4 separate regions of the Homo sapiens genome follow, and regions 1, 2 and 4 are each linked to region 3. Evidence: fine-mapped QTL for protein levels in blood plasma. A gene starts in region 3. Each other region holds a variant in brackets. All regions are shown on one strand. Distances are between the middles of the regions. Region 1 has its middle 170 kb from the start of SLITRK2. Region 2 has its middle 22 kb from the start of SLITRK2. Region 3 holds the start of SLITRK2 (SLIT and NTRK like family member 2). Region 4 has its middle 240 kb from the start of MIR891A.

The links. PIP is the posterior inclusion probability: the model's chance that the variant is causal. Protein levels are from antibody-based Olink assays in UK Biobank. Linkage for the fine-mapping came from a reference panel and not from the study's own genotypes, which makes the PIPs less certain.
Region 1: its variant is fine-mapped to the plasma level of the SLITRK2 protein (UK Biobank, PIP above 0.99).
Region 2: its variant is fine-mapped to the plasma level of the SLITRK2 protein (UK Biobank, PIP 0.98).
Region 4: its variant is fine-mapped to the plasma level of the SLITRK2 protein (UK Biobank, PIP 0.92).

What each region holds. Positions count from the first base shown.
Region 1 is chrX:145,646,131-145,648,818 of GRCh38, forward strand. No RefSeq gene overlaps it. Among named protein-coding and RNA genes, the nearest start is that of SLITRK2, 170 kb to the right of the region's middle. The variant G/A (reference allele first, on the strand shown) is at 1,600.
Region 2 is chrX:145,838,334-145,841,021 of GRCh38, forward strand. No RefSeq gene overlaps it. Among named protein-coding and RNA genes, the nearest start is that of SLITRK2, 22 kb to the left of the region's middle. The variant C/T (reference allele first, on the strand shown) is at 1,169.
Region 3 is chrX:145,815,654-145,818,333 of GRCh38, forward strand. SLITRK2 (SLIT and NTRK like family member 2) reads left to right here and starts at 2,176. Exons shown (of 5, transcript NM_032539.5): 1 at 2,176-2,373.
Region 4 is chrX:146,264,907-146,267,594 of GRCh38, forward strand. No RefSeq gene overlaps it. Among named protein-coding and RNA genes, the nearest start is that of MIR891A, 240 kb to the left of the region's middle. The variant C/A (reference allele first, on the strand shown) is at 1,420.

The DNA of each region.
Region 1 (2,688 bases), 170 kb before region 3:
GTTTGAAGTTGCTATGAAATCAAAAGCTCAGTTTTCTGTGTTTGGCTCCTGTATTTGTTTCCTAGGACTTCTATAGCAGGTACCATGCATGAATTGGGTTGCTTAGCACAACATTTACTGTCTTACAGTTCCAAAAGCTAGAAATCCAAAATTAAGGTATTGTCAAGGCCACGATCCCTCTGAAACCTGTATGGTAGAATCCTTCCTTGCCTCTTGGCTTCTGGTGGTAGTGGCCATCAATCCTTGGCATATTTTAGCTTGTATAATGTCCCTCCAATCTCTTCCTCTGTTATCTAAATCTTCACACGGCCATCTTCCCCTTTTATACATCAGTCTTATTATATGTAGTACTCATCATAATGGCCTTGTCTTAATCCGATTACATCTCCAAAGATCTTCCTCCCAAATAAGATAACATTCTCAGATACGAGGGGTTAGGACTTCAACATGTGCAATTTGGGGAACACCACTGAAATAACAACTCCCTTTTTGTTATTTCTCTGGTCCGTCCTTCCTATCTGTTCAATGTCGTAAAATAATGTTGCAGTAGCCTCTAGGTGAGAAGCCTTCTGTTCCTACTCTGGAAAGACGTTGTAATAGGAGATGAATTCTCAAAGCTCTAAAAGTTCTAAAAGACATGAGCTACACAGGATGGTTGACTTTGGCAGTCTCTCGCCCAGACCTTAGAAAAAAATACCCACTTTGGCTAAGCCCAAGGGTAAGAGACCAAGAAATAGTCTGAGACAAAAGAAAAGGCAACTTTTCACAATTCAAATAATATCCAGCTCAGTTGACTATAATAGGGAGGAGTTCTCTAGGTCTTAGGGCCAAAGCTGTACATAATATAAGGGTATTTTTTTCCTTCTACATTCATTCATTAGAGATAATGGTTCCAGTTAAATGAAAAACTCTGCCTTTCTGCTTAAACTTTGATAATTTCAGATGGACGAAGGTAGACCTGAATTAGAGTTAGCTTGTAATAGTAAAACAGAGTTGAATGGCTATATATAAGAAGTAGGACAAGTTTGAAGTTACCTGGAGAAATCTAGGAGAAACATGGTGAAGAGAAAAACTGACAGAGGGGTGGGGGGGGAGGAGAGAATAGAGGAGCTATTAAGATGTATGAGACTGAGGCACTATGTAAATTGCAGTAAAATTTCCCTGATGGTAGGAAGGAAAAGAAAGTTTTTATATGTTGTTATCTCTGTTCTTGGTAGATTAAATGATCTCCACCCACGATGCACACAACCTAATGCCCAGTACATGGCAAAAGAGACCTTTCAGATGTGATTAAATCGAGGATCTTGAGCATGGAGATTATCTTTAATTATATGGTGAGCCCAATGTAATAGCAAGGATCCTAATAGGAGAGAAGCCAGAAGATCAAAGCAAGAAAAAGCAGATGGAATAATGGAAGCAGAAGTCTGAGCGATTCTCTGAATATAGAGAAATGATCCATGATCCCATCTCTAGAAGCTGACAAAGGCAAGTAAACACATTCTTCTCTGCAGCCTCCAGAAGAAACCAGACGTGCTGACACTTTGATGTTAGTGAGATTTCTTTCTGACCTCAAGGGCTGTAAAAAATCTGTTTTGTTTT[G/A]AACCACTAAGCTTGTGTCAGTTTGCTATAGCAACGATAAAAAACTAATACAATCAGGCATGCCAAAATGTTGAATTTGACTTTTTTTTCTGTTGCTGAAAGGTACACCACTCCTCTGTGCCCTTCCACTCCAGTCAAATTTGTGAACTTTAACATACCAGCACATATTTTGTATGAGTATGGTTGGTGTGTATATGCATATGTGGCAACTGACGAAGAGGCTGGGGTGCATTACTTTATCAGTGTTACACAGAATGGAAAAGGCAATGTGCAGGGAGGAGCTCTGAGACGGAGGTGAGCCTAAATGCATAAGACCCCATCAACAGCCCAGAAGTTAAGGGGAGGCCTTTGTGAATCTGGTGCCAGGATAAAATCCTGTCTAGAGGTGCACTGCACAACCTCTCTCTAAAAGACATATTTAACAGAGAGTTCTCATGGCAAAAAATAAAATCTAATGGTGAAAGGGGCAAGAATCGATGGGGTGATGATTTTCAGCTACATGGAAACTTTCATGTTTTCATAGATACTGTTTGCTGAAAAAAATTTTGCAGTAGGAAATAAATAGATTTCATGGACTGATTGACTGATGTACACAAACATAAACTTCTCTTAATCAAAGGCAACTAATTATCTCGAGATTTAAAAAATCCCAAAATCTATTTGCGCCTTGTATAATACCTGTCTTTTAGAATTCTGTTGTTCAGAAACAAAGTATCTCTCCGAAAAAAACAAATTCTGTTGTAATACAGTGCTACAAATGGATACACATTTAGGTGGGAACTTATACACACTGGAAAAGGGCTTCAGAAATTATATGTTTAATATAATTCTAAGTTATCTAAAACAGTTAATGCTATTTTAATTACCAGAGCAGTTGAGGGTGGAGATTTTAGTACCATGGTGGGATACAGCCTAAAGGATTCAGAATAAGCTGAATTCTATATTACAATCATGAACAAAAGACAAATGTTTCAATGTATAGAAAAATGATTGGAAGTTAATTTTGGGGACTTTGCACTTATTTGGGTAAAACATAAGCTTTATCTCACTGAATATGAATATGTATAAAGAATATTTCTTGTGCATCTG
Region 2 (2,688 bases), 23 kb after region 3:
GCTAAAGCAGCAGCAGTGGGGGGCAATGCAGCTTTTCTGTTCTGTGCAAAGTCTGTTGTTATCTCAATAGTGCAGAGCTGTTGAGAGTAGCTGGATGATTTTGCAATGTAAGAAGAGCAATTTAGTTTTTCTAGGGCAGGTAAAAAATGGCTTGCATTATTTGAGGAGGCTTTGTAAGAAAGGAATTGTGTACTTTTAAAAACTCTCCATTTACCTCTGTCACCTATGCTGTGGCCACAAGAATAACTTCAAGTGGGGCCAGATTTTACTCAGCAGAGCAGCCTCGAAAGTGAAGGACGACGAAGGGAGCAGAGTTTTCTTCATTTGAGAACATAAAGAAAAAGGAGCATTTTGAGGGGAAGAGAACTTGGAAAAGTTGACGCAATACATTACAGCAGGTGTAGAAATGATGGAATCCTGATTCACAGGATGGATATTTTGGTTTCATTCTATTGCTTTATTATAGGTAAAATTGTTTCAAAAGGCTTTGAGAATTTCTATTAAATGGCATCCGGATAAGTTTTCTTAATTACTCATAGTAAAACTCCTTAAACAGTAAATGAAAAAGGTCACATTAGGACATTATTGTACAAGCAAAGACTCCCCCAATGCCCATGCAAAGATTTCTAACTAGCATTTGTCCCACACATAGGAGGAGTTCACAGGCAAACCTCACAGCTGCCTTTGAAGCTGGCATGTTTGGAACCCTAAGCCACTGGATTGCATATCAGTCTTCTGTTTTCACAAGACCTAAAACCGTGTGTCTCACTCAGAATGCAAATAAGTCATAGGGACAGCATTGCCTTGATTTACGGGTTTGGTCTTTTTGACCTGAAAACACATCAGTTTATTGAAGGGCTGTGTAAGCACTGGTGTGACTTAGGCAGTTCAGACTGTATGTTGGGCTCTACGGTTAGGGCTTACATTTATTTATGTATTTATGTTTAAATAAAAGCACTCAGCACATTGTCCATTGATTCCTTAATCTGACAAAATCCCAATAGTGCCAAGTTGTGCAGAGGCCTCGAGCCTGGAGGAGAGGTAAGCTATACCGCTGGGTTGGCTGCTTTGTTACTTCAAGCATGGAAGGGTGGACTCAGGCACCAGAAGCCTCTTTCATCGAGCTCTGGGGCTTGTCTGATGGCTACAGATTCAGAAAGCTTTGAAT[C/T]GGATTTAGATTCAATTGCTAAAAGTTGCTGAATCACAGTAGAGAGCTAGCTTGTGACTTATAAAACTTCTGGCATTATTTGTTTTGTTTTATTTTGTTTCTTTCCCTAATAACCTTAATGTTACTGAATTTCATTCATGATTGCTACAAACGATCAAACCAAGTAATGATTATGGAAATAAACTTTAAAAGCTGATTTGGTGAATAAGTACATAACTCTCTGACTTAATTCTTAAAACCACAAATCAAGAATTCCTTATGTTTATTTTTAGTTATCCTTAGAACTGGTAGATTAAAAACTGCAGTGTGACTTTTTTTAAAACATAACATATCTTATATTGCCAAAGGCTATTTTTTCTGTAAGTAGTAATGAGATCAAAGTCTCTCCAAATCTGTCATATACATTGAACAAAAATGGTCCTAAGACTAGCCGTGATTTAAAAATGCACAATTCTTCTTTAAAAATTGTGCCATCATTCAAATAATACTAAATTGATCCTGTGAATTAAATTTTAGATGAAGAAATTTCCAGTTTTGTTAATTACACACTTTTTACCTACAGCTGGTAACTTTGTTTTTAAACCATGCTGCCCCGAGATACTTGTAAATCTCACCTGATCTTCATAAAATTATAAAATCAAGCACAATTAATAGGAAAATATATTCCTTCTCATTTTTTTGGAGGTGACCAGAAGTCTGGATAAAATAACTTGATTTTTTTTTTTTCATATGGTAAACACTGACAAGAGCAAGTGTGGGAAGGAGATTGAGATATGGGTTATCACTTTATTGCTCCCAGGAACAAAGAAAAGAACTTTTCACTCCTAGCTATTATGCAACAAACTTTTTTTTCCAGCATTCTCATTCATAATGTTTTCTGGAGTGTAACGTCTGTCTTTAAAAGGTTTAAGCTAATGCCCACACATGCCAACTTAAAAATACTTTCCCATTTATTACATTTCCTTTTCCCAGACCTCTGGTAAACTTAAGAGGCCTCATTATACTATATGGAAATAAAGAGATTCCCAAATGGGGAAGGACTGTTTTGAATGCCGACTAAGGTCCATAGCCGGGGGAAATAATTAACTCATTAACTCATTCATTCATTCATGTAACAAACATTTATTAAACACTATGCAAAACTCTGGCTCTAATCCTCAAGGAGATCACAATCAAGTGGTGCAGAAAGTCATGCATAAAACGAATGCTAATGCAGAGTGGTAAATGCCATGAAAGAAGGATGCACCCACCAAGTGCCTTGAGAAGGCAGAGGCCGCAGCCACTGACTCACTCTAGGTAGGAAGACCTAGCAAAAGTGCACTCAAGGCCAGGCGCAGTGGCTCACGCCTATAAGCCTAGCGCTGTGGGATGCAGAGATAGGCTGATTGCCTGAGCTCGGGAGTTCGAGACCAGCCTGGGCAACATGGTGAAACCCCACCTCTACTATAAATACAAAAAAAAAAAAAAAAAAAAAAATCAGCCAGGCATAGTGCCTGTAATCCCAGCTATGCGGGAGGCTG
Region 3 (2,680 bases):
TTTATATTGCTCATCAATTTTCGTGTCTGTGCATTCAAAGCACAGCTATCCACCTACTTGAAAATTTTATGCTGACAAAAAGAAAAGTCTGCTCTTTTTAATTTTGTCTTACTATCAGTGTGGTCCCATGTGGAAAGGCAGGCTGCTAAATGCTTTTCGAAGGCTGGTGAACAGGTTAGACTTGCTTACAAGGCTAATTAAAATTGATGCATGCCATCTATTACATGTTACTACTGGATCTAAATAAAGTATCACTTTTCATCATTAATGCCATGTTCCTTCTCTACTCTGTATAGAAGTTTTTGCTTATTTTGTATGTTCCCTTTGGCTACAGACACATCACCCTTCTTAGTAAACTGTCTGAGTTTTTCAGCATGACTGTCTCATTATTTCTGTATTGGAATGGCCTCTTAGCTCTGTGTTTTGCAGTTGTTTATAACATCTACTAAAAGCGACATGAAAAGATGACACAGTCAGAAATACGGTAAAGACAGAAGTAACAGTATTAACTGACCTCATTTAGTTAATAATATGATGTGCTCAGTGCACTGCTTTTAGTCTGTAGCAAACAGCACATTGGATGTTTACACTAATACAGATATTGTAAAAAGAAGAGCAATGCTTCTGGATATATAACCGTACATACACTGCCCACGTGCTTATGTGAGAACTATGTTATTCCGAAGTTGCTTATCTGAATGGTAGGAAGATTTCAAAAAGGCTTTCTCAAGAATGAAATAAAAGGAACAGTAATGACCCTTACAACTCCGAAGATACGATTATAATTCTTCCGACTATTATTAAAGCAAACTCTGTACATCTTCATAATATAAGATTGCCAGTAGTTTTCTTTTTAAAAAGCCCAGCATAATCTCCTTAGAAAACCATTATGAAAGAAAGCCAAGAAGAGAGGACAGGAGAAGCACAAAAGATTCCCACGGGAAGGACAAGAAAAAGGTGGTTGTCAGTGCTGTGAGAACGAGTTGAAAGGCATGGGAAATATGGAAACAGACAAATTCCAATGCAGATCCACTAGCTGGAGAGGTAATTTTGCGTCTAATTTTGCACCTCTCTCCTCGCCTCCCCGTCTGCTCTCCACCATCACGCTTTTCGACAGTAAGAAGGATTTGGGGTTTTGCAGACTCTAGCGGGCATGAAAAGGATAGGGGGTGGCAACGACTTGAATTAATGACGTTCTCCTACAGGATGGAGGGGAAAATGACTTAGTGTCATCAAATGAACTCCCTACTCCTGGCATAAATTTATCAAACTGCAACTTTATCTCGAATACTCTGGAAGAGTAGAGGAGAGGCCCTAGAGAAAGCAAGTCTTGAGGGGAAACGCAATGCTCTTGGCAAAAACCGCACCTCCCTCTTGAACTACACTGACTCTTTTCACAGAGCGCCTTCCTTTAATAGAATCACAACCACCTGGACTACTAATAAGAGGAAGAAGAAAGGAGAAAAGGGAAGGGAGGATGGCAAAAATCACGCTCTAGAAGATCCAGGCAACGTCGTCGTGAAGAATAAAGGGAATCAAAATGGGCACTGGAACGCTGCTAAGGGCTTGCTTTGTTAACACACTTGCACAACTCAAGTTCAGCTCTATCTTATGTTGAAAGTCCTTGTTTACGATCCTCGTAGGAGGTTCTTAAATATCTGCCTGCGAACTCCCAAAGACTGGGCGCTTACTAGTTAGGGGAGGCAGCTGTCCCGGAGGGTGTCCAGCTCGGATGGCTGACTGCTCTTTCACTTGTCGTTAACTTCCACCCAGTAGTCTTAGTCTCCCCTTGGACATGGTACCGACCGTGTGCCATTCTTATTTCACTTGACCGAGCCCGAGCTGCAGCCCAGGGTGGAAGCCGCAAGGGCTGGGCAGAGTTCCAGGCAAGAGGGACCGAGAGGCGTGAGCAGTGCTCCGCAGCGCTTGTCAGAGAAATGGAGCAGCGGCTCCTTTGTGGGCTCTTACATCCCCGTCCTGGGTGCACAGCCCGGATATTTGATCTGTGGGGTGATTGATAAGTGAGGGAGAGGGGGGACGCGATCCCTCCCTCCCTCCTCCCTCCCTCCTCCCTCCTCACTCCCTCCTCCCTCCTCCCTCCCTCCTCCCTCCTCCCTCCCTTCTTCCCCTCTCCTCCCTCCCGCTTTACTTCCCTCCTCCCTCTCGCCTCCCTCCCTCCTTCCTGCAAGAAGCGTTGCCCGTTGGCTAGCTGCTCGGTGGGGATCTGCCTGCCCTGGGGGCGCCGCCCGCGCTCCCCGCGGTGCTCTCGCTCCTGGGCTGCGCCAGTCCGAGGCGGTGCCGGCTCCTTTGCCTCCCCGAGTCGCAGATGCTGCGGGCGCCTCCGGGAAAAGATCTGGGCGGCGCGCTCGCTCGGTAAGTTCTGAGCACTCAGGGACGCGGTGGCGACGCGGCCAGTGAGCCGGCTTTCCTCAGTCCGTTGCCTTTCCCGGCCACCTCTCCTTGCGAGGGGCACCAGCGTGGGGAGGCTGGGCGCCATCCGCGGAGGGCAGCTCGCTGGCGGCCGCCCTCTACCCTCAATCCCCACTGGAGATTCCTCACCCCGGGACCGTCCGCGCGGGCGTGGTCGGGCTCCGCGCCTCGCGCAGCGGGGTGGCACAGGCGGCCAGGGAGGGCCCACGCACCCGGCGCGAGCTAGAAGCCTCCGGTCGGCCTGCAGTGC
Region 4 (2,688 bases), 450 kb after region 3:
TGAAGGCAGAGGAAGGCAGAGCTACCAACCAGACTGTGTGGAGAAACAGCAGCAGGCGCTGGCAGCAGGTGGGAGGGAGGAGTGAGAGGGAAGCACGACTTTCCGGCAGCATCCATCTGTTGTCTTGTTGCTTGTCTGCCAGGAGAATTTAGTTGATGACTTCTGAAAGCAAACTGCCCTTCACCTTAGAACATACTGTTGACAAACAATAGCAGTACTTACAAGTGAAGAAGTGAAGAGCTGGCTTGTTCACTTAGTGGTTCTTGATGGAAATGGGGCAGAGAACTTTCAATTCAGAAACTCTCAAAACACAGACCAGCCATCAGCTGCACTGAAATACCCCCAAAAGCCGCAAGCCTCTTGTACTAATAATAAATTCCACCTTTCTGTGGCTTCTCAACTTAAAGATTGTCAGAAGAGATAGGAGAGGGGAGAAACCCTCCCCTCTGCCTGGCAAGCCCCCAGTGAGGACAACTCAGGTTTGCACATGGGTGCATCAGTACCTCTGCAAATGAGTTTGGGTGCTGAAATAAACTGTAACTGTTCTAAAATCAATAAACTTTCTTTTATCAACTCAACCCATTGCGCTCTCTTTTCAATAGCACTGTTTGTTTCTTTTTAATTCTTTCATCTGGTCTTCCTTTGACCAGCGTGCCTCCCTAGTGTTCCAAGAGAAGTGTGCTTTGCTGAGGGAATCTTGGTCTGGTCGTTTGGATAAAGAGGTTGATTTCCCTCATCCCTCGTATTGTGAAGGTCAAGTTGACCAGCCTTGGGCAAGTCCTTAAACTTTCTGGTCCTCTCTGCTGCCCTGTCTGCTTCTCTAAAGCATGCTGTTTCCTCAGTGAAAGACTCATTCAAGTACAAAGAGTCAAGATGTGAAATCTTCCAAGCCTGCTGTGCCTGTTGCCTTCTGCACACCCTCAGCTCTGCCCTTAAGTTATTAGTTCAGAAGGGTTTGCAGACTTATAGACAGGCAGTTCTTTTCGTCTTCAAGTAAGTGACAAGCTATTCCGCCCCAAATCTGTTCACAGTGCTTGACACAGATTGGGCAACAGCGCATTCACTCTTGCTGGATCTGCATATATCTCCTAGAACATTTTCCTTTACTTTGTTTTACACCCAGGACACAACTTGTCAAATTACTGACCTGGTCTATCTTGGTAGCCTTTCATTTTATTTTATTTTAATTTTTTTTTCAAAGATTGTAACCTGCTTGACAGGAACTGCATTTGCCATTCTGATGGGAAACTGCTTTCTCAGCTCAGCTATTTCACTTCATCTTATACCAATGAAGAACTTGTTTTCAGATAAGAATTCATAGGAGCGATAAAGGTGACCACAGCATAAGCACAAATCACAAGAAGTTGACAGGTACTGGGGTTAATTGATTTCAGTTCACTTGAAAGGTCAGTACATCTT[C/A]TTTCCTGCTTCTAGTTCCCAGGTTGAAGCTCCTGTAAACTAATGGACGGTTTTGGTTTTCCCAGGTTTCCTTAATCCACAGGCCAGTTGTGTTCAGTCTCCCCTAGGCTTCTCTTAACAAAGTGACAGCAGGTTTTAATCTTCCTGTACACACTGTGGCAGCTGTGCAAACATTTCATTAACAAAAGTGGGAATCATTAAACTTGTGGGTAACTTACACATAGCATTTGATATCAGTAGACCTTAAGATGCCCCAAAGAAAGGATAAATCTGTGCACCTTAAACGCTACTTTATTTCAAAAAGCTTGAATAGTCATAGCAAAGAAATTAAACTCCATCTAGGGAATTAAAATATGTAAGAAGGATTTCTGAATTAGTATTCAGTTACAAAATTCTCTAAAATTATATTGCAGCAGAAATAAAGCAACTTCCAGGCAAAAACTCACATTCTGAATTGAGAAGCTATAGAACGTGAGGCAGGCAAGGCTTTTAAATGAAAAACTGTTTAATATTTTAATGCTATCGTCCATAAGGTTTTGGAATTATGTGGACATTTCTTCTCAAGATACGAGATTGTTCAAAGATAGCTGCAAAGTTGACACTGGGCTTTGATTCATCTTGGTTTTATTACCACTAAAGTGATTTATTATGTTTATTTCATAGTTCTCCTCTCTGAAAATTTTTAATGCATTGCTGACATTTTATTAGTTGAAAAAATTTTATATCAAAAATCCGCCTATGGATTCTGTACTTACTAGTGTGAAAAGTAAGGACAAATCCCTACTGCCTTCCTAGTTCATTTTTATTTGAACATAACTCACTGTGTGCACCAACAGAAAAACTTATTACTCATTTTCTGTTTTAAAGATACAGGCTACTGTATTTTTAGGTGTATACCTCTTCTGCCATGCAGTCCTCCCTAATCCAAGAGAGAAAATCACATTTTCCTTAATCCTGCCATTGGGCTTCTTATACCTCCTTCATAGGATTCACAACAGTTCACTGCACATACGTGTTGCTCTTTAACTACCTAGCAAACTCCTTGAGACCAGGGCTGATTTAAAGCCGTGTTTACCCAAAACCAACACTTAGCCGCAAATGTCCAATGAATGAAGCCCTTGGGTGAACCACAACGCATATGGTGGTAATCTTAGATTCCTCCTGTTCAGTTTTTCCTTTCAGTTAATATAGACTTTTATTCCCAGTTGTGTGCTTGGTCTGGGTAAGAGTATAGGGTTGGGTGAAAAAAGGGTAAAAGACACAGTCTCT